Linked DNA regions of Homo sapiens: regions 1 and 2 are each linked to region 3. The links come from fine-mapping of genetic effects on gene expression. A gene starts in region 3. Each other region holds a variant in brackets. All regions are shown on one strand. Distances are from middle to middle. Region 1 overlaps SLC22A23 (solute carrier family 22 member 23). Region 2 overlaps SLC22A23 (solute carrier family 22 member 23). Region 3 holds the start of SLC22A23 (solute carrier family 22 member 23).

What was found.
Region 1: its variant is fine-mapped to the expression of SLC22A23 in whole blood (TOPMed, PIP above 0.99).
Region 2: its variant is fine-mapped to the expression of SLC22A23 in whole blood (TOPMed, PIP above 0.99).

The regions. Positions count from the first base shown.
Region 1 is chr6:3,349,751-3,355,954 of GRCh38, forward strand. The region is part of intron 3 of SLC22A23 (solute carrier family 22 member 23); the gene reads right to left. Among named protein-coding and RNA genes, the nearest start is that of PSMG4, 94 kb to the left of the region's middle. RefSeq lists an enhancer at 1-2,273. The variant T/C (reference allele first, on the strand shown) is at 2,714.
Region 2 is chr6:3,357,102-3,363,305 of GRCh38, forward strand. All of the region lies in intron 3 of SLC22A23 (solute carrier family 22 member 23), which reads right to left. Among named protein-coding and RNA genes, the nearest start is that of SLC22A23, 97 kb to the right of the region's middle. The variant C/T (reference allele first, on the strand shown) is at 3,483.
Region 3 is chr6:3,454,387-3,460,590 of GRCh38, forward strand. It overlaps SLC22A23 (solute carrier family 22 member 23), which reads right to left and starts at 2,664. Exons shown (of 10, transcript NM_015482.2): 1 at 1,520-2,664. The coding sequence starts at 2,173. It overlaps LOC643327 (a long non-coding RNA gene), which reads left to right and starts at 1,317. Exons shown (of 2, transcript NR_147844.1): 1 at 1,317-1,865. RefSeq lists silencers at 2,432-2,661, 2,722-2,941.

The DNA of each region.
Region 1 (6,204 bases), 100 kb before region 3:
AACTACTCAGAAATAAGCCTAACATGAAAGCAGGAAATTCATATGAAGTGGGCAGTGCCTCAAGCAACCTGATATCTTCAGGAAAGATAAGGTGGTGGCTTATTGCTCCCATCGCTCTCTGATCACAGACCTGGGACAGAGCACCTCTTCCAGGGCTCTTGATTCCTGTGATACACGAAGGCAGATGATCACGGTCGCCTTCATCCCCTCTTGGGGGCTAAGTACATTCACAGTCCCTTGGTTCTTGGTCTTTGTGTCCTTTGAAGCACATAAAAGTCTGGTGGATGAGTAGGACCATGGTTGATAGAAAATTATTTCCCAGTACTGCACAGCATAGTGACTCAGCATGCATGCACACACACACCCCAAATTTTCATGAAACGATACTTAACCCTTATTGTGTGTGATGCACTTAATTCTATTTTTTTCTTTAAAAATGCTGGGCAGGACCCACCCGATGGATTCTATAACCCTTAACCCAAGCCCTAATGTGTCATAAACTACAGTTTTAAAAGCTGCTCTAAAGTAGGGTTGGAAAACTATGACCCTCGGGCCAAATCCTGCTGAAGGCTGCTGTTTTTGTACAATGCACTGCCTGATTTTATTCAGCTCGTCCCTAAGAATGGACATTTTTAAATGGTTCAAGACAACCAAAAGATGAATAATATCTCTTGTGTGAAGTTTATGTGAAATTGAAATTTTAGTGTCGACAAATGCGGCTTTTGTGGAATGCGGTCACACTCATTCACCTCCAGATTGTCCATGGCTGCTGTTGCAGTAGCAGGGAGTAGTAGGTGGGGCAGAGACCGTATGGCCTGCACAGCCCAGAATATTCATGTTCTGGCCCTTTGCAGAAAACTTGGCCCATGCCTGCTCTGAAGCTTTGACAGCTGCAGGCTGGATTAACTGATCCATTCGTCAAACTGGTTGTCAGAGCCAGCATGTTTTAGTTATCCTTCAGTTTCTAACAGAAAAATCAGCATTATTACTTAAAAAATGCAAATGGTGATTTTTATTATGAGAGCAGATTCCTCAAGGGAGACGGAGTTATTTTCACATCAGAGAGAGAAAACAAATGGAATTTCTTGGTGGTAATGGGGAGCTGGTCTCACTGCCCTTCTCACTCCCATTCTGAGGTCAATCATCTTGTATCTTCAAAGGGCACTTGAATTTTTAATCATCTTCTCTTATTGACGCATTTAATTTGTGGTGAAAGAGAAAGATTTTTTTCTTAAAAAAAAAAATCCCTTTTGAATTTACTAACTTATAATGGTGAGCCTGCATTTCCTCCAGGAGAAGCAAGGCCAGGCCGATTTGAACAAATTCCACTTAAAATTCAAGAAACCCATGTGAGATGAAAAGTACCCTCAGAATGGCCACAAACAAAGACCTCATAAAAGGCTAATGCCGTTTGTATAGAATTACAGGAAAGAAAGTGAGAGCTAGAGAGGCCCTCGCAGTTAAAGCCCCCAGCTTTTGTGAGGCTCAGGCAGGATGGAAAAAAAATCTCCCTATTAGCATTCTAGCCGGATGGCCCTTTGTCCAGTGTAATCGGAGTGCGGTGGAAAATGCCAGGCAATTTAGCCTCTTAGGGTGGAAAACGAAGGGGCGAAGGAAAAGGGTTGGGGAAAAATAATCTGATGTTATCAGCTAGTGCTGGCAGAAAGACAAGTCTTGAGATTTTATGGGGTGGGGGTGGCTGAGCTGGGCAATGAACACAAATCCTGGGGGTTGCCCTGAGCGTGCCAGGCAGCGGGGAACGTTCAGCCCACAAGTACTGGACGGTCAGGACTAATGAGCAGTCATCCAGGCTCAGTCAACAGCCCTCTCTGTGGCTTCCCGCCCACCCCTCCCACTGCTCTGGAAACCTCTCTCCCCTCGACCTTTCCTGGCTTTCGCCTAAGAACACGTCACTGGCCACTTCAAAGATTCTGTAACCCATCTCCTCCCCCAGCCACACTGTACCACAGGGTGGGCCCTATGGAGCCATATTTCTGCTATTTGGTATCAAAACTGTCCCCGAGGAGACTTGCTACTTCATTCAGGACTGAGCCAGGAAACCCAGGTTTCTAATGCATTCTCATCAAATGTACATGACCCCCAGGTGAGCAGGAGGATGGGCAGCAGGGCCAAGGCCTGAGCTGCTGCAGTCATGGGGACCACCTCGAGGCAGATGGAGTTCCCATCTAGGCCACACCAAACAGGAGAGCAGGGAGGGATGCTCTGGGTGGATGACTGTCCACCACCCGACTGGTAAGGCTGCTCCGTTTCTGAAATGGGCGTCAAGGCGAAAGCACTCCATGGCCTCCCCTCCCCAGGCAGGGCTGCTGGAGTGCTGAGAGGTGGCAGAGGCCATGGCAAAACCAGGCCCACCAGGACCACAGATAAGGAAGGGAGGAACAGGGCAGGTTGTGGAAGGAGATGTGAGAGTGCCTCTTGTCCTGCTGCTCTGACAGTGAAAACCACGTACACGGACATGTACAGACACACAGACACTCACAAACATACACACACAGACATGCACACACACACACACACACAGCCATAGACACTTACAAGCATGCACACACAGACATGCACAGACACACACACACACAGCCACAAACACAAGCACATACAGACATGCACAGACACACTCACACACAGACACAGCCACAGAAGCTCACCGGCATGCATGCACAGACACACACAGACACATATTGACCCATTCACA[T/C]ACACGGCCACATACACACATAGGCATACTTGCAGACACACAAATACACAGACAGAGAGAAAGAGAGCAGGTGAGCACACACCAAGCCCCGGCCATAACAAAAGGGAGAAAAGGCTCTGATCTCTGCCATTCTTGTTTTTCCATCTGAAAATGAGAAACCTGCTACTGGGACTCACCTGAATCATGGAAAATGGACTCACTTGAGTCCTTAAATCATACTCTCACAGCATATGAAAACTGCCAAGCTTCCTGGAGGTCTGAGGATAAATGGTGTCGCTTACAGGTGTTCAAAAAGCAGAGAAATGACAATTCTTTAATTAATCTGAGTGAAGGAAAAGCACATAGTGCAAACCCAGAGCCAACAGCAGTTTAGAGACGCTCCCTGGATACGCATGGACAAGCCGCGTGCCCTGCAAACACCCGGGAGAAGATCAGTCGCCCCCGTGACCTGCACCTTGCTACCAGAACCCCCAGTGGTCAGCTTGTCCCAACAGGACTTTGTTGCTGAGGAACAGGGTCAAAATATGTATGAAAATACTACAGTGATTATATTCATTTTTTGCCTGAAATTTTAAGTAAGACTTTTTACCCTGTTCTTCAGCAACGACCAGACCGTGTCAAGAGATGCAAAGTCTCACCTGTGAGTGCTCCGCCTAATCTAAAATTACATGTAAGTATTATTACTTCCCTGCTCACAGGAATAATCTGTTATTCTTGGAGATTTTGAAGGCAAGATGGCAAAGGGCCATAAAAGGCACATAACTGTGGGCCTTTACCTGGCTGCTTAAACCAAAACCTGGTTTTCCAGCATTTGAACAAAAAAAGGGAAACTCCGTCTGTGTTAGATTTCCTATACCACAGCCAGCTCCCCAATGAAGAGGTGCTGCCTGATTCTCCCAGCTGCCAATCTTGCCCTCTTCTACAGCATTTTAGTTAAAATAACTTCCTGTGTCTCAACATCTGGCTTGAGCGGTTTGGCTTCAGGCCTGAATCCCACTCAATGGGAAATGCCGTGACCCTCATGCTGGGATTCACGATGTCACCTGCTTGATTGAGGTGTTCATTATGCTTTACAAAATCACATGTATAAGACTATTAGGAAAACAGTTCAGCTGCAAATCACAAGACTAGGGCTACTGGAATTTTTGCTCCCAAATCACTAGATCAGTCAACCACTGCCTTTCCAGGTAAAGGGCTGTGCTCGCCTCGTCCCATTACCGAAGCTGTGATGTGGCTCTTCTGCCCTGTGCACTGCCACCCAAATGTACTCACGTGATTTCTGGCTTCCAGGGCTGCTGTTCCCAAGAGCTCCCTCCTCAGGAAGCCACACCATTCCCCCACCTTCTTAGTAGAGGCAGACTCTCCCTTCTACCACCAGTGTTTCCCAGGACCCCAGTTCTGGCCCAGAGCATGACAGCATCGAGGAAGCCTCATGCAGAGGCTCCTTACAGATCCCAGACTACCAACTTTTCCAGGTCTCCTATGCGTGGGCTGCTTTACTTTCTCTAAGAAGGCACAAGGAAAAATGCTGGTCCTTGGGTCGGTTGACTGAATCCTTTGATGTGACAGGTAGCTAAGCCACTTATCTGGACCCATAAACCTCCTTGGCAGGCCTGATTGGATTGTGGAAATTTCGATGGTGATCACATGTGTTTTCTCCTTAGAGTTGGCATGGCCAAGACAAGAGCCACATGCAACTTCTAAGCAAAACACACACACAGGCTCACACAAACACATAGCATGGTGCACTCCCAACGGAGAGGCAGTCAGGGCATTGGATGGGCAAAGACACTCCTTTCAGGACCCTTCAAAGGTAAATTCAACAGGAAGTGCACATTTACGGAGGAGCAAGTGACTAAAGGCACTCACAGACTTTTCCTTCTCTTGACTTGTGTACCTTTACATCTTTACATGAGGTGGGTTGGGTAAACAAAAGAAAATCTCAAGAAGATTCAGATTCTCTTTCCATGTCCCTGCTGCATTTAATAAGTTCCTCGATTGTAGTGACCACTGTACTGTGGTCAGATCCATCGATATAGCAGAGACTCTGTGCCTCAAAGGCAAGGCAATGTCTTTCCATCCTCAAGAGACCCAGCATCCAGCAGGCACTCAAGAAAGGATGGGTGAACCATTTATTAGTGGGTAAAGCAATGGATGAACTGAAACACAGTCTGTTTTTAGTTGATGTCCCAGTAAGAGTGTTAGGGGGAAGTCAAGGTGTTGGAGGGGTTGCTCTAGATTTCAATGATCCACACCATCTCTAATTTCTTACTAATTAATCAAATAGTGAATGTCTAACAAATGGGGAAGGTACTATGCTGGGCCAAGTAGCCATGTAATGGGTTTCTGAATCTCATAATTCAACATCATCTTCTTCAACTGACACTTGTCTTTCCAGGTCAATTAAGCAGGCAGCCTCATTAGTTCATGGGTAGACAACACGCAGAACAGACAAAGCAGGACCTGAGGGCCAGAGGGTGACAGTATCTAACTCTGCCCCTAAAAGCACAAGGCATTTGGACAATTTGTGCTACACTCTTTCCTTTAAACAGGCAACAGGAAAAACAATAAAAGATATTCCTACTACCGAGTTTATAAAAACACAAACAAAAAAAACCAGCGCCTCTCCACATGGCAGTATTCAAATCCTTATCTTTGGGCTCCTACCCTCTATCTGCTTGGAAACAGCTCCCTGTCTTTGTGGCCGCCACCCTCCCCAGCTAAAAAAAAAAAAGTCTCCCTCCAAATACTATCCAGTAGCTCTTCAAATAAAATGGGATGAATAGAGAGGCCTTGATAACCACCAGTTTTCTCATCTTCAAACTGGAAATCAGAAATAATATCAGTAAAGACATCGACTTATTAGGTACAGTGAGAAGCCTTTGAACTTAAAAGACGGGAGGAAGACAAGCATGCTGCTCGTGGGTTCGTCACACCCTGTTCTATGCAACAAAGCAACCCTCCCTGGGTCGAGAAAAAAAATCTCCATGATGATCTCTTAGAAATATAAATGTATTTATAGATAGATATTTTCCCTCTTACCATGTGTATAAGAGAACAGGACGTTGCTGGGCAGAGGGAAGTTATTGTGTGAAGGCCAAGGTCATAACAAGGTTACCGTTCTCATGAGTCTGGGCTAGGTCTGGGCCCTCCCGCCCCGCTCCCTGTATCAGCCCCACTCCCAGGCTCCAGAGCTAGGCCACTTGATGCCTGGTCAGTCCTTTCTGTGCCTTCCCAAATTTACTCTCAATTTCTGGCTCATCTACTATTCTCATTTGCTATTTCTTAAGTTCTGGGCCACGGGAGCCCAAGGTCTCACTCAGCCCTGCACAAACCCCAGCTCTCAAAGCCGGCGTCGCTCTCACTCATTCCCTGTCTCCGCATCGACACGGAGGAGCCACTGGATATAACGCTGAGGTATTAAAAAAAGAAGGAAGTTCAGAAAAACAAACACAGTACGACAGCATTTGTAGGAAGTTTTTTTTTAAAGG
Region 2 (6,204 bases), 97 kb before region 3:
ACTGTAATGAAATGCTCACATTTACTCCAGTGCCCACATCTGCATTCCCAGAGTCTCAGAAATCCAGCAGGATTCCAATGCCATGGAAATATGTATCATTGTTTTTGCCAAACAAACTCCCTTACCTTAAGCAAAGGTCAAGTACACTGTAAAACTCCCAGTGCAAACAACCAGCTGGAGGACTTATCCCAGCCTCTGTAAAGTCTTTGCTAATAATTATCCAGACAGCTTTCCTAATTTTTATTTTTAAATGGGGTTGTGGCTCAGCAATAGTGTAAGGATTAATCGCCTTATCAATTAGCATGAGGAAAGGACTGCAAATACAAAGTAGGTGTGTTCTTCCTGGCTTTCTACCTGCTCAATTAGGCTCAGGTCTTAAATGATTTCCAAAATTGGACTACATCTACTGTGTTTACTTCATTCTAAATATCAAAAAGATATCTAAAAGCTTATCATAAAAAAATTTAGAATTTCCCTTTTTGGTTACCAGCCTAAAAGCTCCTTAGTTTAGGGACTGTGTTCTTATTCAACAAGCCATGCCCAGCTCCTGGTTCACAGAACACACTGAATAATGACAAATAATGGAAAACAGAAGGCGGCTGTGTATAATGAATGCATTTCATTCACTTATTCAGCAAGGAGGATGAGGTAGCACCATGCCAGGGGAGATGCCGAGATGAAGCCACACCACCGGCCTCAAGGGGCTCACAGTCTGATGAAGAGACACGTGCCTATAAGACACAGATGGGGTTCTGTGCTACAGGAATGCAAAGAAAGGGACGAGGCCTGGGGAAGACTTCACCAAAGAAGCAGCATTTGAATCTTCCCTTAAGGGAAAAGGAAGTAGGACTGTCCTGCCATGTGGGTGAGGGGAAGGGAAGAGGCCTGGGAGGAGAGTTTTCAGAGAGGCAACCAGCTCTTGCAAAGGCGGCCAGTGCAGAAGAGGCTAGACAGGTTAGGTTCTCAGTATCAAAGTCCCCAGGATGGAGAGAAATTGGAACCTTTAAACACTGTTGGTAGGGATGCAAAAATGGTGCAGCCATTATGGAAAACAGTATGGCAGTTCCTCAAAAAACTAAAACTAGAACTGCCATATGATCCAGTGATTCTACTTCCAGGTACTTATCCAAAAGAATTGAAATTAGGATCTCAAAGCACTTGACGTGAGCGCTCCCACGTTCACTGCAGTGTTATCCACAACAGCCAAGATATGGAAACAACGCAGAGGTCCACTGATAGGTGAAGGGACACACGAAACACAGTGAAAAATACAATAGAATATGATTCCGCTTAAGAACGAATGAAATTCTGACACGTACGACACGTGGATGAACTTGGAGGAATTATGTTAAGTGAAATAAGCCAGTCACAGAAGGACAAATACTACATGATTCCACTTACATGAGGCATGTAAAAATAGGCAAATTCAGAAAATCAAAGAGTGGGCTGATGGTTGCCGGGGGTAGAGGGAGGGAGACATGGGGAGTTGCTCGTCAACTAGCATCAGCTTTCAGGCAGGCGAGATGAATAAGCTCTGGAACTCTGCTGCACACATTGTGTCTATAGTTCACGATACTGTGCTGTACACTGAAAAAACCTGTTAAGAGGGTGGGTCTCATGTTAGATGTTCTTACCACAAATAAAATTAAAAAATAAAATAAAAAAGGCCCCAGGAGAGTTTCTGTTTCATCAACCCAAGGAAAACACCGGAAGGAGTCACAGCTCCAGTGAGGAAGAAGTGAGAAGGGATCTGCCATCGGGGGCTGGAGGGATGGTGGGAACCTTTGCCATTTCAAAGGGAAGCCCTGGCTCCCCTCGGGCACAGCATCCTGGGTGGGGTCTGCACCCCGAGCTGCCACCCATTGCATTTCCATGTCAGCGCCATGTCAGGTGCGCTGTGCCGATGTCTAATCAAGTCTCAGTCATTCAGGATGAAGAGAGAATAGGGAATTCAAAATACATAACTGCAAAAATGAAAGCTCCTTTATTAATTTAGTGCAATACAGAGACGTCCCAGAACAACACGGGCTGCATCCAGAATCACAGATCATTTCAACTAAGAAAAAGATGGGCACCGAGAAGGAGAGCGAGGAACATGCCAGCTGAGACTCATTTCATTCTAGGACAGTACTAGAATGAGCATCTCACTGGGAATTCACCGCCCTCAGGCAGATAACAGATGCTGCTAAGCTATGCTAGCTGGTGTTGCCACGTTTATTCTTCATCACTGAGTGGTTCTCCTTAGGTCACACATATAACTATCCATCTGAGTGCAAGTTTAAAACAAAACAAAAACTGAAGAGGACATACAGATGGCCAAGAAGCACATGGAAAGATGCTCAACGTCACTGTCATCGGGGAAATGTACATCACAGCGACAATGTGGTAGCCCTTCACATCCATCAGGATGGTAGCTGCTGTCAAACAAACAGGAAATAACAAGTGCTGACAAGAATGTGGGGAAACTGGAACCCTGGTGCACCAGTACATTCCTGGTGGGAATGTACAACGGTGCAGCCAACTGGAGAAAACAATATCCCTGTTCTTCATAGAATTAAACAGAGGATTACCATCTGACTCAGCAATGCCACTTTTGGGTATAACCCCCCAAAAGTGAAAGCAAGGACCTGAAATGATATTTGCACACCTATGTTCACGGCAGCATATTCACAACAGCCAAAAGGTGGGAGCAACGCAGGTGTCCATCAACAGATGAATGGATAAGAAAATGTGATCCATCCAGAGGATGAAATATAACTCAGCCTTAAAAAGGGAGGCCATATCCAACATATGCTATAGTATAAAGGAAGCATTTTTTCTTTTTTTCTTATTTTCACTTATTTTTGTCCTTAGAGGTCCTTGTTCTGAGGGAATCCTGAAGACATTATGCTAAGTGAAGTAAGCCAGTCACAAAAGGACAAATATTGCATGATCCACTTAAATAGGTTCTTAGGTAGGCAAATTCATAGAAACAGAAAGTAGAAGGGTGGCTGCTCGGGACTAAGGGATGGGAATGGGGAGTGTTTATTGGGGACAGAGTTTGTTTGGGAAGATGAAAAGACCTCTAGAGATGAAGGGTGGTGATGGCTGTGTAAAAATGTGAATTACTTAATGCCACTGAATGGTACAATTAAAAGTAGTTAAAATGGTAATTTTTATGCTATGTTTATTTTACCATGATAAAACAAACACCCCCCTCCAAATAAAACAACAACAAAAAAGGCAAGTCCGTAGTATTGGCCTTTGAGAGCTCTGACCTCAGCTGTGCCCCGCCCACCCATCCACCCAAGGATCCTTAAACTCAGGAGGATCAGAAAGGCTCAATCACCAGGAGGTGAGGTGAGTCACAGAGCTCACTGCATTGCCATTCTTGGGGGCATTTGTCTCATCTGCCTTAAAATACAGAACTGCATTCTCATAGTCGGGTTTCAGGCAACGGCTCAACCGTGGAGGGAGGTCACTTTGGGGCCTTTGCACACATC[C/T]GAGTCAACCTCAACAGTCTTAGTCCACACATCTCTGTATTTCCGGTCACTTATTGCTATGCTGACTGCTCATCTAAGCCCCAGATACTGTCCCAGTTATTTAGGAGACAAAGAGGCCCTCAAGCTGGCCTGAGCCCCCAAGGGGTCCTCAGTGATGTCGACACGACAGGTGTGCAGGCACCCCCATGCAGACGGGCCCCTCTGATGGAGACCTGCGTTCGGCCAGGCAGGCCCACAGCTGGCGTGGTCATCCAGGGCGGGAACGGGATTGGACGAAGCCTTCCCTCGGGCAAAGATGCTGGGGTGGGGAACAGGTGCAGCAGGAACAGAAGGTCAGAGCGTGGTACTGGGGTGACGAGAGGCGCTAGCGAACATCAGCAGCTGCGGGGAGCTCGAGGCAGCAGGGATGTCCAGGCCACAGAAGGTGTCCCACATTTTATATTCCTGTTGTTTGTATATTTTCTATTTCTACCCACCCCCCCCATTTTATGCCTGACCCCAAGTTAAACTGCTTAAGGACTTAAGACCCCAACCAGCTGTGACTTAGATCAGGGTTTCTCCCCCAAAGGAGCCTGCAGCAGTGTCACACAGAACACACCCCCTCAACTGTCTTTCTACTGAAAAAAAAGAGAGGGAAACGTGCTTCAATAAGAGGGACACAGGGACCCCCAAGCCCTGCCCTTTAGAGAAGCTTAAAGACTCCTACATCATTCTTTTTTTTTTTTTTTTTAAGGAATTGGGTCCCTTCCATCTGTGGCCATGACCGTTCATCCCACAGCCTGTCCTCCTCTCTTGAGAGCTGTCCTGGCTCAGGCTGTGGCTGGATTCTCAAGCAGCATCATGTGGCCAGGTTAGGAGCAGGATGTCACAGAGAGAGGGGTCCAAAGTTCAGCTGCTGGGAAAGGCCACAAAGACTGGGGTCCCAGGAGAACGGCGACCTGCCTATCAGTTCTATCTCTAAAACTCTGGGGTTCGACTCTCCAGACTTAGCTTCTGTTCCCAGCTTTACAGAGGACAAGGGGCTGGGCCCATGAGTCTCTCTGCATCAGCAACACCTCACTCTCAGTTGAATTCAGACTCGAAAGCCCAGTCTCAACACAGCAAGCCCCATGGGATCCAAGAAATACTGCTCCATGCGTCTGTTACCCAGTTGTCTTTTTGCTGAATCACATTGTGGGGGCAAGAAGAAACATGAGGCCATCTCAACAGATCGCAAAGGCCTCCACGGCTGGGACACCTGTCAAGCGGGAAACACGTGCCGGTTCTCACGCTACGACCTAGGGAGATGAAGACATGGTCCCTACCCCGAGGGATTTACAATCAGGCATGGAAAATACTCCAAATCCAACACCACACTGCCACATGCTGATGGTCATGCCAGAGTGCACACAAGGACTGTAGAAACATGGAGGAAACCTATCAGATCATTCTATACACCTTCCCTTCAGATTCATGTGCTTGTCAGCAAATTAAAGGCTCTGTGAGGTCCTCTAGGGAAAAATAAATTTTTTTTTTAAGCAAACTTTAAAAAAATTAGCGGCCAGGTGTGGTGGCTCACGCCTGTAATCCTAGGACTTTGAGAGGCCGAGGTGGGTGGATTGCCTGAGCTCAGGAGTTCGAGACCAGCCTGGGCAACATGGTGAAACCCCGTCTCTACTAAAATACAAAAAATTAGCTGGGCGTGGTAGCATGCGCCTGTAGTCCCAGCTACTCGGGAGCTGAGGCTGGAGAATCGCTTGAATCCGGGAGGCAGAAGTTGCAGTGAGCCGAGATCACACCACTGCACTCCAGGCTGGGCGACAGAGCGAGATTCCGTCTCACAAAAAAAAAAAATAAAATAAAAAATAAAAAATAAAAATTAGCATGCATTTTCATCAGGGATTGAAACACCCACCAAGGATACTGTTTCCTGAACCAAACAGTTGTTAACCAGGCAAAGGCCATGACCTTTCTGAGATCTCTTCATGGCCCTGGGCTCCATGGGATTGAGATTAATGAGCACAGCAAAGCCCCCCATCCCATCTCCTTAGCAAGGTAACAAAGGAATGGAACTCTGGGGCCAGGCAGAACCCCCAAGATGCCATCTACAAATCTGGCCTCTCCGTCTCTCCACTACACAGAGTGAGGATGGGAGAACCAGAGCCCAGCTCTCTCCATGGAGAAAGGCTGCAGGTCCCAGAAGCAGGTAGACCTCCAGGACCCAGGAGAGGAAGCATGAATGAAATGCAGACATTAAGGACCATCGAATAAAGATTTTGAGGGCAAGGGGAATGGGGTGGTGGGACAGGGGAATGTCCTGTGCCAGCTTTTGCCATGACCACCTCTTTGTTTCCATGTGCGCGTGAATGAAATATTAAATAGGCTTGGCCAATTAACAACCTTTAAACTCTGGACTGCTCAGAGCCCAAGGAAGAGAGTTTTGATCTGCATTCCCACTTGACCTGCTCAGCACTCGGTGGGACATCCCGCAGCCCACTGCCTGCAACTTCTGATGAGCATCAGAAATGGGCTCTCCGCTCAGCTGGGACATGAGGCATAGCACACTCAGGCAGGGGCATGTTTTTTGTGACTTATATCTTTGCCATTTTAAATTAACACAAAATACAAAAGCAGTTGGGTCTCCCCTCTACCAAAGTCAGTTTTCTTTTCCTGCAGCCCTGGCTGGCCCATCCTCACCAGGCGCAGCAGCAATGGGTGAGCTCCGGCAGCACAGCACATGTGT
Region 3 (6,204 bases):
AAGTTCACCTCTACTTTGACCCCAGGACACAGCGCTCTTCACACATACTCACTTTGATCCATTATTCTCCCTCTGCTCTAGAAAGACACTTGAAATACTTAACAATGTTGCCAAATCCTCAGTCTGTCAGACATACACAGTGATTTAAATAGTCATTGTTCTTAATTTTTCTTTGCTGCTAAACCAACAAAGAAATATTGCCCTCCGTGAAGGGAAAACAGTCACAGAAACACCTTTAGAAAGCAGGGGGTAGGAGGTGGGTGGGATCAAGGTGAACCCAGCTAGAAGGACCTTCCCCATTACCTTGCAGGGCAGCAGGGGCAGCTCAGTCAGACAGTTCCCACAGGACAGAGCATTTCTGGCCAGGTTGGTACAAGATTAAAACAATGATTATGATGATGTAAGAGTTTATCTTACACATCCATGAGCTACAACTGTTAACCAATGCACACGGGGGGAGGAGGTTACATGCACATTGACTATTTAAAACTGTCCAATTTCATACATTTCGACAAAGCATTTAAAACTCTGCCAGAACAGCCCAGAATGGGTAGCGGGTGGGGTGGAGGAGAGTCTGTATTTACTTTAAAATGTGAATTAATTAGTTTAGACACAAGGAGCAAAACTACAAATGTCTTGATATCTCTTATATGTTAAGAATAAAATTACAGCTGTCTAGGGGCATTGAGTGTCCACCATTGCCCACTCTGTGTTTAGGCCTTCACACTTGTCTCACAACTCCCTTCTGCTACATTTCACACCACGCAATACCTCTGCAAGGGAGCTTTAGCTACAGGACTCAGAGGACAAGGTGCATGTTTCAGCTAAAGCACACCCCCGTTCTCAGTGCCTCAGCCCAAAGCAGCTGCTGTGTAAGAGCGGTGACGGCCGGGGAACACCCAAATGACATATTCTCCGCGTCCTTCCTATACTGTAGTGATGTTTACTGAAGTGCTGAGAAAACATGGGAGGAGACACTGGGGTAGCAAAGCCTAAAGTCAGATATCTTTGGGGAGGACTAAGCATCGGCTGCGGGTTGGGGATTTGCAGGAGTCTTTGCTTCTCTGGCTCTCCAGTTCTTTAGTAGGCTTTACCTGTGTCAAAATCAAGTGCGAGATGGAAGACTATTGCTTTGTGGGAGACCCAGGGACAACTAGCCGGGCAGAACAGGGCTGTGGTCCCGACTCCCCCAGCAGACCTTGAACGACGCCAGTCCGACTCCTCCAGAGGGGGCTGGTGACAGGTCAGCTGCCTCGCCCCGAGGGTGGGGGAAGGGCGCGCTTTCCATCCGCGTACTGGGACAGGAGTTTGGGTGCAAACTAGTAAAGGCTATGGTGCTCCCTTTACACCCAAGTAAAGGCATGTGGTTTGGGGGACGGAAGGAGATTAAGCCAATGCGGAATGCCCTACACACACTCTAGCACCACCACTTTGGGGACTTCGGTTCTCCCGCTGGCTCGGGCTTGGACCTCGGTCTGCAGGGAGAGGGTTGGAGGGACTGGGCGGCTGCGGCCCTTACCTTGCTGACCACGTTCTGGACGAGGCCGGCGCGGATGCCGTAGTCCCATGCGCGGCAGTCACAGTTGGAGGCGTTGTCCCCCTTGTCCGGAGGGGATGGCAGGGGTGGTGTGTCGCCTCCGTCCGCGCCGCTGCTGTTGCTCCGGTTGCCCGCAGCCTCCCAGGGGGCAGTGGCGAAGGGGGTGGTGGGGAGGCTGGTCCAGTTGCCCATGTCCCCGCCCCGGCCTGTGGTGGTGACCCCTGCCAGCTCGGTGCCTTTGCCGGCCCCGCGGCACCAGAAGTTGGGCTGGTCCAGGAGGAACGAGTCCGAGAACTGGCTGAAGCCGATGAACAGCGCCGGGATCCAGGTGAGCAGCACGAGGGTCTTCTGATAGCCCCCGCCCAGGCCCCCGAGGAAGGGCAGCACCGACCCGTCATAGTCCAGCAACAAGAGGCTCGGGGCCGCAGCCGCGGAGCAGCAGCTCGGGTGCGGGCCGCCTCCAGGATGCAGTGGGGGCAGCGGCTGGATCTCCGCGCCGCCGCCGGGGCCCGCGCGTCCCCCGAGGGGCGCCGAGGCCGCCGCGTCCCCGGGCGGCAGGGAGCCGTTCTCCTCGGCCGGGGCCGGCTGCCGCCCAGGCCCGCCGCCCGCCGCCTCGCGCCGCCGGTCTATGGCCATGGCCCGGGCCCGCGGCTCCCGCAGAGGCGCATAGAGCGCGGCGGAGGCTCCGCGGGCGCCCCGGGCACAGCGCGCCGGGCCAGGCGCCTGCAGCCGCTGCCGCCGAGGAGGGCCCGCGGCTCGAGAGAGAGCGCTCGGCGGCTCCGGGTGCGTCAGGCCGCCCCCATGTCACCCGCCGGACCCCGCGCCCCGGGCGCTGCGGCCCCGCTCGGGCGCCGGGCAGAGGCGGGCAGAGGCCGGCCGGGCCCTCAGCCGCCGCGGCTCATCAGTTCCGCGGCCCGGGCGCCGGCTGCCGAGCCCGCCGCTCTCCGCTGCTCCGCGCCGGACGCGGCAGGAGGAGGAGCCGGCGCCGCGCCCGGCCCGCGCCCTTGCCGGCGGTTCAGGGCCCTGCGGGCGGCGGTGCGGGCAAAGGCTGCTGCTCCCGGGGTGGCCGCGCTGTATTTCTCCGACTTCGGGCGCCTCCCGGAAGCCGCGAGCTCTGGACCCAGCCTGCCGAGCCGGCCGCGCTCTCCAGCTCCTGGAGCCGGCCCCACTCCTCCTCCTCCTCCTCCTCCTCCCCCTCCTCCCTGCCCCCCGGCCCGCCCCCTCTCCCCCCGCCGAGGTGGAGGTAACCGCGGCACCTGCTGCGCTCGGCTCCTGCTCGCGAGCGCCCCCTCCAGCCCGGACGCGCGGCCGCCGCCGCCCGGGATCCACGGGAGGGGGGCGGGGGAAACGGGACACCCCGGGCCCGCCTGGCTGGAGGATCCCCTGCCCGTTGCCCGTTTCGCGCCGGGCGGGGCGGGGGAGGAGGAGACGCGCGTAGCAGGGGTCGCCGGCCGGCGACGGGTCCCGGCAAAGTCGGCGTGCGCTGAGAACGTGTGGGCCGGGTCTTCTCTGAGGCTGGGCTCCCGCAGCCGCGCGGGCCCCCCACCCACTCCGCGCGCGCCAGGTCTCCGTGACCTCTGTCTCTTCAGAGGTGCCCGGCGGTCCCGCTGCCCGCGCCCCGCTCCCAGTCCCAAGCCCGAGGGTCTTCAGCCTTCGGGAACAACCCTCTGCGCTTTTTCCAGGAGCGAATAAGGTTGATTTTTGTGTCCGTGGAGCAGGGTCAAGGAGGCGCCTTTGCCAATTTCAGGTCGCCAGTCCCCCGCAGTGTCTGGCCACCTGCGACCCGCCGCACCCACTCCCAAATCGCCATTTCTTCCCCCACTCCTAAGTGCATGCGATGTAAGCACGATGCTGGGATATATCTCCAACACAAGTTATAATACACACAGTATAAACGTGATGGCATTCCCCACCCCCTCCCTAAGATCTTGTATTCACGTTTGGAACGCCGTGTGCACAGGCGCACACATCTATACTCTCACACAAGAAGACAAACCTCTCCCTCCTCTCCTGCTCCAGCGCCAACCTTGCCCAGCCAGCGCTGTATAAATAACACCAGCCCTGCGGCAAACGGCTACATTAGCATATTTCCTCCTGCACCCAGCGCACGCACCAAAGAGAATTATCCGGCACCTTTCAACCCAGCGTCCCCACATTTTGGAGGCATTTCATATTCTGAGAAGTTTATTAATGGAAGTCTTAAATGGAGCAATCCATTTCTAGTCTTATTTGGGGCAAAAAAAAAAAAAATGTTTAGCTTTCCAAAAGGATATATTCTAAGCTCCATATACTGAATGTATTCTTTTGCATTTTCATTATTTGCTCAGCTAACCGCTGCACAATTTAGTGGAATACATTTTTAACCTGCAGTTCAGTGTTAAGGGCAACATGTGTTTACTGCATAAAATGCTGGCACATACGTACCAGAGAACTATTTCTGAAGGCTGCCGGGGGGCGGGTCTTGGGGGACAGGGGAGGTTGTGGACCTTCCTGCGTGGCCGAGAAGGGGTGATTAGATAACAATGGGCGGAAGGGGCCCTAAGGGCTGCAAAAGACACCAGACCGCTGAGAAATGGGTCTGGAAACCACATATATAAAGAGCTGGGGGCTTGGGGCGGGGGGGGACACGATAGTGCACGTTGTGTACGTGGTAATTTTTCAACTTCACATTATTTATTAGCTTAACTTTTCTTTTCCTTCCCTCTCCTCCCCTCATTTGAAGAGCTAATACATGCAAAGTTCTGACCTCCATGCCTGGAACAGAGTAAGTGCGCAATGAATGTTAGACATGTATTATTACCAGTGCTCCTCTTGCCATTACATACAATCCACATTTCTTTTTGAATTGAAATATAACTTTACGGATTTTATTTATTTTCCTTTCAGTGGCTGATTTTCCAGAAGAGGTCCACTTTGTGTCTGGCTCTGCCTCCCTTCCCCCACAGTCACAAGGACCCATTTGTTTTCTTGTAACTGATCACAAAAGGAGCATTGCCATTGACCTTAATGGCCCTTCCAATCAGAATAACTATCATAGCCAGCGTTTCAGAGTTGGCTTTCAAATTCACACTCTCACTCAGTCCTCACATTCAGCGCCCCAAGAAGTGGGCTTTCAAAGAGAAACAGCAAGGATCAGGTGACTGACTACCAGATCAAAGAGTTGGTCCCCAGCTGAGCCAAATATCTGGTTTTGAACCCAGATTTTCTGACTGGACATTACCGGATTTCTCCATTTCATCATACAGGGGCAACTATAGGGAAGAGTTTACAAAGATGTTTGTTAATGTGCATTTTTACGTGGGAGAAGCCCTGGCCCTAGGAAAAGAGTTTCATTGTGAAGATGTTATTAGTCTTTGTTCGCAAAAGGTGGTAAAAATCCTCAAATGGTACATTCTTAGAATTTAGGGACACACTGGAAAATGGTATCCTCTAAAACTGAAGCTAAAAGGAGGCAACATAAAATGTTTGAAATTAACTAGCTGCAGCACTGACCCAGGCATTGTAATTAAGCTGTTGATTAGATTAGAGGTTTCCCTAAATTCCTCCTGGATTGATATTTCCACCAAATCTAGTCAAGAAGATTAAAGTGTAACTACTTTAAAATAAAGTGGCCTTCAATTTATTAAAACATACCACAAGTGATCTCATAACGTGAGCAAAAGGAGTAAAGAGGAAGAATTTGACACTCTGACAGCCTCAGTGGGTGAGGTTTGAGATCCATGGACCAGGATAGGAAAGCCAGACACCTGTTAAAAAATTACTGTTTTTAATTTTCTGAATGAGCATTATCATCAGCTGCTATTTTTCTTGTTTGCTTAGTTAGATTTACGTTCTGCCTCTAGAATGTAAGCACCTTCGGGGATAGGTGCCTTGTGCTCAGCTGTATGCTTGGTGGTTAAAACAGTGCCTGGTACATGCAAGGCACTCAATACATCTTTGTCAAATAAATGAGTGTATCAAGTTATTAATCACTTGATGATACTGTCTATTCAAATCATCAAACTGTTTACTTTGTTTCTTAAATCATCAAGCAACCTTTTTGTGTTTGTTCATCTCTCAAAGATGGTGCTCAGATCAGCCAACATGAGACTTGAAATGAATTTGACAATTATATGTCTTGTTGTAAGGCATTGTGGTTACTGGATTAGCTCCCAATATTATCTTCTCTTGGGCAGTATTGGCTTGCAGATGGTGGCTTATAGGCCAAATGCAGCTCACAGACCATAGGCAATGTTTTCAGGAAAATAATTGCTAACATTTCAAAATTGGGAGATTGAATACTTAGAAAAAAATGTGTTTTGGGCTTCTCTGAACATCATAGCAGAAGCCATTGTCCTTTTGATGCCCCATGTTTGCAGGACCGTGCTTTCTTGGACTGCAGTAAATGAGCAGGCACTCTCCAGCTTGCCCTCATCCCTGCCTGACACATGCCCCTCATGCATGACATTTGGCCCCCAAAAGTAGCTGTGTTTGTGACCCTAAATTTATGTGAGTATCCTGAACCCAGTGATCTTAATAAAGAAGCTGAGTCATTCCCTTTTCCTTTGAAAGTATGTTAAAGAATCTACCAGTTTATAGTTTTCTAAAAATTGAGAAAATAAGGAAAGGAAATGAAAGTCATAACCTAATCACCAATACATTTGAACAGTTTTATTTCCTTGGAGATA